Linked DNA regions of Homo sapiens: region 2 is linked to region 1. Evidence: fine-mapped QTL for protein levels in blood plasma. A gene starts in region 1. The other region holds a variant in brackets. All regions are shown on one strand. Distances are between the middles of the regions.

What was found. A credible set is the group of variants that fine-mapping cannot tell apart. PIP is the posterior inclusion probability: the model's chance that the variant is causal. Protein levels are from the aptamer-based SomaScan assay of Sun 2018.
Region 2: its variant is the best candidate, but not a certain one, in a credible set for the plasma level of the PDGFD protein (Sun 2018, PIP 0.66).

What each region holds. Positions count from the first base shown.
Region 1 is chr11:104,162,138-104,166,533 of GRCh38, reverse strand. PDGFD (platelet derived growth factor D) reads left to right here and starts at 2,387. Exons shown (of 7, transcript NM_025208.5): 1 at 2,387-2,730. The coding sequence starts at 2,607.
Region 2 is chr11:103,997,986-104,002,381 of GRCh38, reverse strand. It overlaps PDGFD (platelet derived growth factor D), which reads left to right. Exons shown (of 7, transcript NM_025208.5): 2 at 2,127-2,331. Among named protein-coding and RNA genes, the nearest start is that of DDI1, 36 kb to the left of the region's middle. The variant T/G (reference allele first, on the strand shown) is at 1,706.

The sequences.
Region 1 (4,396 bases):
TTTGAAATTATGAATTCACAATGCCTTGGGAGCTCAAAGTATTAGTATCTTGGAAAACACTACATTGAATATTTAAAATTCATTATTTTATATAAGATATTAAGACACAATTTTAGCATTTTGATACTTGTAATAAGTCAGTATCTTGATACATGTCATAATTACATAATTATAAGTCATTTGCAAATTTTCTCCGTTTTTCTATAGTCTCATATCAGAAGCTAAGTATGAAATTGAATGAGCATTTCCAACCACTTCTAAAAAACGATATCACATATTTCAATTAGTCCCTACTCCTATCCCATCTATCTCTACCCCTTTTCACTTATTAACACAGTTACATACTTACTTGTTTATGTTCCCTTTCCTCTATTATAATGTAAACTCAAAGAGATTAGGAACTTTATTTCTTGTTCACAATTTAATCCCCAAGATTTTTAGACCAGGGCATAACACAAGGGGAAAAACTAATGCTTAATTAATACCTGTTGAATGAATAAATGATCCTTAGTGTCTCTCCCAGGGTTTCACTATATCCTGAAACAATGTAATTAGATCTTTTTTTCCAGGGGCTTTCAAACTTTTTTGATCATGCCCCAAAGAAATAACTATTATATTGTAGTGTTCGTGTATCTGAAACAAAATATTCATAAAACAATATTATTATCTCCAATGAACCCTGATAATTAAATTTCTAAACTATTGTATTCCAATCCATTTATTTAAACAATTATTCTGGTATTGAAGTTGATTTCATGGCCCACAAACCTAAATTTTGTAAAATACCATTTTAAGCCAAAAAGCCAATAGAGATGAAACATGTTGATCTTTGACTATGTTGAAGGGACACATGAACCCTCGTCCTTGTTGGATGGTATAATAACTTGACAAGGCTACCTTTTCCAGAACTTCCTGCCCTTCTCAGCCACTTAAAGTTCCCTATGTATGGATATCACTTACCATATGCCAGACTTTCAGGAGCTGGAAGGCCTGAAAAAGACTGAAAATTTTCTCTTCTAGATCTCATCAGCGGAAAATTGAGAAATCATATAAATTTGGATTTGGATTCAGCTACAAACAAAACAATATGCTAAACATTTTTTCACATCATTCTCACCACAACCATACAAATTAACAATTGCTACTCTTGCAAATAAATAAACTGAGTTTCGAAAGATCAGATGATTTGCTCAAGGGGACAAAGCCAGTGAGCAGCGAGTCTGGACTCATTCCTTTTCCAAATACAGTCCCCTCCCATGGGCAGACAGACACACGATGTAAACCAGAGGCAGCCCCTTTCAACTGCTGAGCTTCCAGACGCAGAGTAGGGAGAATCCCAAAAGCCTCAACGACCCATGCCTCTTCCTATGGACTGTGAAGGCAAGTGAGCACAGTGTTCTGCAACTTCTTCCCCTTGCTCAGTCTGTTCCTGCTCAACCCCACTCTGTCCTGTTGCCCTTTCCTGTGGAAGGGCTGGAGCTAGTGCATATAAAAACGCTCGTGAAGACTTCTTGCCCTTATTGTACACTGCACCACATGGCCCATCACGTCTACAGCCCTGTGTGATAGGTGGTTCATCTTGCTGCACCCTAGAAAAGGCATTTTGGTGTCCAATACTCTCTGGTACCAGGATGCCCTGACTCATCCTGGAGTTCGCGAAAAGTGAAAGCTACGCCATCCCTCCATCAGTCTCGACCTTTTCTCGGGCATTTTTGATAGATGGAGGGACTCAAGAGTAGCTTTCTCTGGGTGATATACTTTTATTTTTATTTTATTCCCTGAAAAGGTACCCTTGACTCACCCAAAGGTCACACTGATGGGAGCTCAAAGAAAAGCTCGGAATTAAGCTCCTTTGTGATTGTATTTTTTCACTATAAACAGTGAAATTTTAACTAAGTAGAGTCTCATTTTGGTTATTGTAAAATAAACACTCCCAACTCCAGTCCCTGTCCCCACATCCCACCACCATCAAGGCGGAGAGCTGTGGCTTGTGGGTGGATGTGCCAGTCACCTCTGAAGAAGTGCTGGGATTCTACCCTCTCCCACTTCCTCCTGGCGAGTTTGTTTCCTGAGCCCTTACAGGTCCAACCAGGAGGGTAAAGCCCAGGGCGGTGGGAAGAGTCCCGGCCGGCGATTAAACTGGGCATGCTCAGTGGCAGAGCAGGTTTAGGCCCGGCCTGGGAAACTGGGGAGCTGAGGTGCTCGCGCCGCCGCTCTGAGCCCGAGTGCGCGCCTCTCAGGGGCCGCGGCCGGGGCTGGAGAACGCTGCTGCTCCGCTCGCCTGCCCCGCTAGATTCGGCGCTGCCCGCCCCCTGCAGCCTGTGCTGCAGCTGCCGGCCACCGGAGGGGGCGAACAAACAAACGTCAACCTGTTGTTTGTCCCGTCACCATTTATCAGCTCAGCACCACAAGGAAGTGCGGCACCCACACGCGCTCGGAAAGTTCAGCATGCAGGAAGTTTGGGGAGAGCTCGGCGATTAGCACAGCGACCCGGGCCAGCGCAGGGCGAGCGCAGGCGGCGAGAGCGCAGGGCGGCGCGGCGTCGGTCCCGGGAGCAGAACCCGGCTTTTTCTTGGAGCGACGCTGTCTCTAGTCGCTGATCCCAAATGCACCGGCTCATCTTTGTCTACACTCTAATCTGCGCAAACTTTTGCAGCTGTCGGGACACTTCTGCAACCCCGCAGAGCGCATCCATCAAAGCTTTGCGCAACGCCAACCTCAGGCGAGATGGTAAGAGACTCATTTTATTTTTTAACTGAAAAAAAAATCATGTTTGCTATTGTTATTGTTCTTTCTATGTTTTTCCCCTTTCTTTTTGAATCTTGAATGTGAACTCGGGCTGAATGCATTGTTTGGGGAGGGAGGTCTCCTGCCTGTATCCAGTCCTGAGAGAGCTCCATTTCCGGAATGGGACTGAGAGGTGTGGGACGCGTGCTGATGGGGATAGGATAAGCCAGGTGGCTCACCTTGCTGCACCCTAGAGAAGTCATTTTGGTGTCCAAGCCTCTGGTACCAGGATGCGGTGCCTCATCCCGGAGTTGGCGAAAGTTGCAAGCTGCGCCGCCCCTTGGTCAGACTCAACCTTTCTTAGGCAATTTTGATAGGTGGAAGGAGTCAAGAGTAGCTTTCCCTGGGTGATAGACGTTTATTTAAATTTTATTTATTTATTTATTTATTTTTACGAGTGAGAGGAGAAATCGTGCGTTTCAATCTAGCAGTTATATCTGGAACAGTGACAATTTACTATTTATTTTCGGGAAATGGCAGTGTGCAGCCTATTGCCCTTTAGGTCCCCTAAGTGACTTTCCTATTGAAGTTCACCCTGACTCAGAAGCTCAGAGTGTAGGAGACCAAGGCTTCTGGGGTTTCATCAGTACCACAGGGGCACCAGGCTTCTGCTGCTAGTTTCCTTGCAGAAGCGGCTTCCAATTATCTACAAGGAGCACAGCTCCTGAAACAGCTGTCCTAAGCAAGGTCCCAAGCCAGCTTGTTTGTTTTCCTTTACTCTAGAGGACACCTGGGTCACTGGTTCCAGAGACCCTAAGCTGAGTTTATTTACTTTCTGGGGCCTCCACCTAAAACTGTAGCTGATGTTCCCAGCAAATTTTAGCTGTTCTGCCATGTACCTGAACTGACCCATAGGCTTTTGGATCTTGTTTTTTCCTACATCAGTATCTTTCTCTCCTGCTTGCTTAAAGTACTAACACATCTCCCAAGGAGACCATCAAGCAATTGTTGATGGCTTCACAGTTTCAGCTGACAGTATTTGACTGTCTTGGTAAATTCCTATTAGCCATCTTATCAGTTTCTTTCTTGGTATGTCCTTAATTTGGAATTTACTAAATGACTTTTGGACTTTGCAGGGAAACCAAAATTTCATTATGTTATCTGATGATGAGTAGACTATGGATATCAGTGTACTCGTCACCTGAAGTGGTGTAGATTTGTAGCAGGGGAAGCCACAGAGTCATCTTACTTTTTCATAGCGTTTTTATGTAAAAGATTCCAGCCGTGCATTTTTGGTAACTCTCTGTCTTAGTTAAAAGCACGTAATTTATTTATTTATTTATTTTTTTACTACACTTAAGGATTAGGCCCAACACCAAACTGTGTGGTTTTTTGTCTTTACTCTTTAATGTTTCCACTAGGGACAGATCTTGTAGGTTTGTTATTAGTTGCACTTTATATGTCCTTTTAGCTACATAGAGTAAAATTCCACTTGTAATTTGCATGACTTCATAGCCATAATTTTGTAATCCTCACCCTCCCAAGTATCAGTTACAAGAAGTCAAGGACAGAAAATGAAAAGCATGTAACCATTGCCCATTAACCCAAGATTCTGACTAAAACCAAGTTATGTAGCTCAGCAGGTTTTTTTTTTTTTGAAAGAGAATAA
Region 2 (4,396 bases), 160 kb after region 1:
CTCACTCATTATCACGAGAACAGCATGGGGGAACCACCCCATGATCTAGTCATCTCCCACCAGGTCCCTCCCCTGACATGTGAGGATTACAATTAGAGATGAGATTTGGGTGGGGACACAGAGCCAAACCATATCAAGACCCATTGCCTAAAAGCCCCTTATGACAAAATGAGCAGACACCAGTTTTCGCAGCTGATCTTTAAGCATAAGATCAAGGGAAGGGAAAAGACTCAACGAGCAGAAATGATTTTCGTCTCCTAGGAAGTTGTCTGCTTGCTGTCCTTGTTGGAAGTGCTGCCATGACTGCAGGCCACTGCCTTCATCTGGAGGCAGGGAGTGGGGACATCCCTCAACTACCCGTTGCTTTTCCTACGACTCTGTCTCCCACACAAAGTCTAGCTGAACAAGCTGCAACACATTAACATTAAATGAGTCCAAAAAAAGTTTAAATTCCCATATGCAAAATCACTTGCAAAAGAGACTTTTGTACTTCACATGCCAATTCTTATCCTCTTTGTCTTATTTTTGGAAGCTCTAACAGCCACCCTCAGAAACCCTACCTTACAGTGGTTTCCACCAGCAAGCATAGCTTCCCTGACCAGGCTCACTGAATTATAGTCCTCAAAGTAAACTCTCTGCAGGATAACATAAATAGACTGTGGCTGGAGGTCTGTTTATGGTGGGGCCTAAAAAGCCAAAATCCAAAATGCAATGAACTCTGAATATTGAGAGAGATGAAAAGGGGATCCACTGTATGATGCAATTCTGATGAAAACTACCGGGAGTTAGGCCAAATTCCACAGGTTAAAATTACAAGCACCACAATATGGTACTCACTTCAGACATCAGCTGCAAGTTTGGGGGACCCCAGCTCACTTGCACTTCTGACCAATTGGTTATAAATTTGGGAGTCCCTATAAACCCCCAGGTTTGATATTTGCTAGAACAACTCACAGAAATCAGAAAAGCACTGTACTTAAAATTAAAGTCCTCCTATAAAGGATATAAATTAGGACCAGCTAAATAAAGAAGCACATAGGGTAAGGTCTGAGAGGGTCTCAAGCATGAAGCTTCTGTGTCCTCGGGACACATCAGCCTGCTAGTACATCAATGTGTATCCCCACCTGGGAAACTCACCCAAGTCTTGGTGTCTAGAGTTTTCACTGGAGTTTCATTATGCAGTCATGATTGATGGAATCATTATCAACATGAGTGGACTCAATCTTCAATCCGTCTTTCATCCCCAGAGGTTGGGAGAGAGATCAGGTTGAATGTCATAATGGCTCCAAACCCTAACCCTTAATCACATGGTTGGTCTATCTGGCATGGCCGACCCCCATCCTAAAGTTATCTGTGGGCCCACAGTGAGTCACTTCATTAGCATAAATTCAGACGTGGTCCCGGGGGCCATATCATGAATAACAAAAATATTTCTATGACGTGAGAAATTCCAAGGGTTTGGAAACTCTCTTCCAAGAACCCAGTACAAAAACCAGATAAATTCTTTTTATCTGGCTAACAGCATAGAGAAAATACAGTAAGAATTGGACCTATTTTAACTCATAGAAAACCCAAGACACAAAATTATGATTTTTCGTGGTGGAAGGATGGATGAAATTATTTGCTGATTCTAATCCATACTAAATGAACTGAAGTTCTGAGATTGTTGTTAGTCTTTGCTTGTCAAGAATGATATTAAGAGAAC[T/G]CCCAAAGTACAAAGTTAGACAGACATCAAGGGTGGATTTGTGAAGAATTTAGGGAGGTGGGGGATACTAGAAGAAAGATGTGTTGTTTGTTTAATAGAAGGCAGAAGGTTACCCATCGGAGAATATCAATTGAATACAAAATAAAGGGTCATTAAACATCACTAGAGTCTTTTCTTTTGTTTTTCACTCATTCATTCACTCAGCAGTCTTTATTGAGTATCTCAGATGCTAGTCACTGGACATAGATTGCTACGCCATCAGTGTGAGAAAAAAAGTTTGTTTATTTGCATTTAGACTTAATGTTTTTAGGCAAAATAAAGAAGTGTTTTGAAGTATGATGTGTTGTAAACTGTTCTCTTTTTTTGACTTTCCTGTAATTGGAGCAACATACTAATTTCTACAAGTTGTGACTACTAACAGAGAGCAATCACCTCACAGACTTGTACCGAAGAGATGAGACCATCCAGGTGAAAGGAAACGGCTACGTGCAGAGTCCTAGATTCCCGAACAGCTACCCCAGGAACCTGCTCCTGACATGGCGGCTTCACTCTCAGGAGAATACACGGATACAGCTAGTGTTTGACAATCAGTTTGGATTAGAGGAAGCAGAAAATGATATCTGTAGGTAAGTTGGGAAAAAAATTTTTACGGTACTATTTCAAGGTGAAAAAAGAAAAAGATGAATTTAAAGCATCGTATCAAACATTCCTTTTGAGCCTTTTAAATGGACCCAACATGTGTCGCTTCTTTTTCAAAAAGCCTAAAGACCCTAACAGACAAGATAGCGTAGACTGCTGAGGCAGAGAGCCGAATAACCTGGCAGTACTCACAGAAACTCACTTGTGCAACTGTCAGGACTGTGTGACCTCCAAAGAAGGGTGAAATCTGGAGGTCCTCTCCTTTTCCAGGCACAGAGCAGCATTTATGCACAGGTATCCAGCATCCCAGGTTACGGGCAGCTGCATCATGTGTGGTCAAAGCCTGCCATGGGCTTAGGGAGCATAAACCCCTGCCCGGCTCCCGCTGACCCAGGCCTTCCTACCCATAATGAATTACGCCAGCACTGGGAGATGATGGTTGGGGAAGCTATCAGGGCCTGACCCCGAATTCATAGTGTTAAGGCCTCAGATACGGGTGGGAAGGAAGAGAAAGCTCACCCCAGATTCCCTGTGCTCCTCAGAAGGGTCTGTTTCTTGCAGTTTCTGGGTCACAAGTAGAAGATGAAAGCTGTGTCTGATAATCTTCTCTCTTCTTAGCATATTTATCAAAGAAAGCCTGGACTGTTGTTCTTTGAATGTCCGCTCACAGCATTTTACTCGCTTAATTAGCATGTATAAGACTTGAGGAAGATTTTTTTTTTCTTTTTTGTACTTTACTGCACACACTTGTTCTGCATTGCCAATGAACTACTGAACTGCTAAATCCTTTCAGCGGGTTTATTTTCCTTTGAATAATAAAAAGAGGGGCCTCAAATTTGGTTGTCCTCTGTTGCATGTTTATTATGCTGACAGCTTTTATTATGTTGCTATTTTGCTGAGAATAACAGCACTGACTATTACTTTCTAGGACCATAGAGGGTAATGTATGCCAGAAAGCAGAGATGAATACATTAAGGAAGAGCCAGTTAATATTTACAAAGAGAATAAACTAATGCTGATCTTGCGTCTTTTCCATCTCAAAAAAAAAGAACTAATATTCTGTGCCTAAAAAATCATGGGAAAAAGACGCTATTAAAAGATTATTAAAGGTGATGATGTGGAGGGTACCATGATCTGTTTCTGCCCATAGAACACTTCCAATACCAAATCTGTGAGGTGAGGGTTTTTTCCCACAGCAGTTAATCCTCCAACACCAGCTTGTTTTGTCCTATTCAATTCAATTCAGACACTACCTGGAATCAGTGTCAGATCCCACAAGTTAAGGCTCAGTCCCACAAGACTGCCTCCATGTTCTATGTCAGTTGCAGCTTCCAAGCCTCTCCTACTTCTGATCAACCAGCTGTAAATAGGGGTTCCATAACCCTCTTCTTGGGTTGAATAATTTGCCAGAACAGCTCACAAAACTCAAGGAAACAGTTTCCTTGCTATTACCAGTTTATTATAGAGGATGCAACTGAGGAACAGCCAAGTGAAAGAGATACATAGGCAAGATGTATGGAAAGAGTGCTTTCTCTGGGTTTGCAACCTTCGAAACACCTGGATGTATTCACCAGCCTAGAAGAGTATTGATGGAAGTCTCATTGTGAAGGCACGATTAATTAAATCATTGGTGATTGAACTCCATCTCCAGGCCCTCTCCCTCCCCAGAGGTCTAGGGGTGGAGCCAAAATTTACAACTCTCTAATCATGTCTTGTTCTTTCTGGTGATGAGCCTCCATTCTGAAGCTACCTCGGGGCCTCCCAACAGGTACTTCCAAAAGGCAATGAATTTATTCATTAGGATAAATTCTGGTATGGTTGGAAGGGGGCTTATTATGAATAAAAAAAGATGCTCCTCTAACCCCAGCACTCAGAAATTCCAAGAGTTTTAGGAGCCTGTGCCAGGAACAAAGACCAAATATATATATTTCTTATTATTACAATATCACAGAAGGGAAGCCAGGTCTCCACTACTGAGCTGGAGTTTTGATCCTAGCAGTGAGTCCTTTTGACATCCTGGCCTTGAAATTAAGGGAGGAACAGTGAGGATGG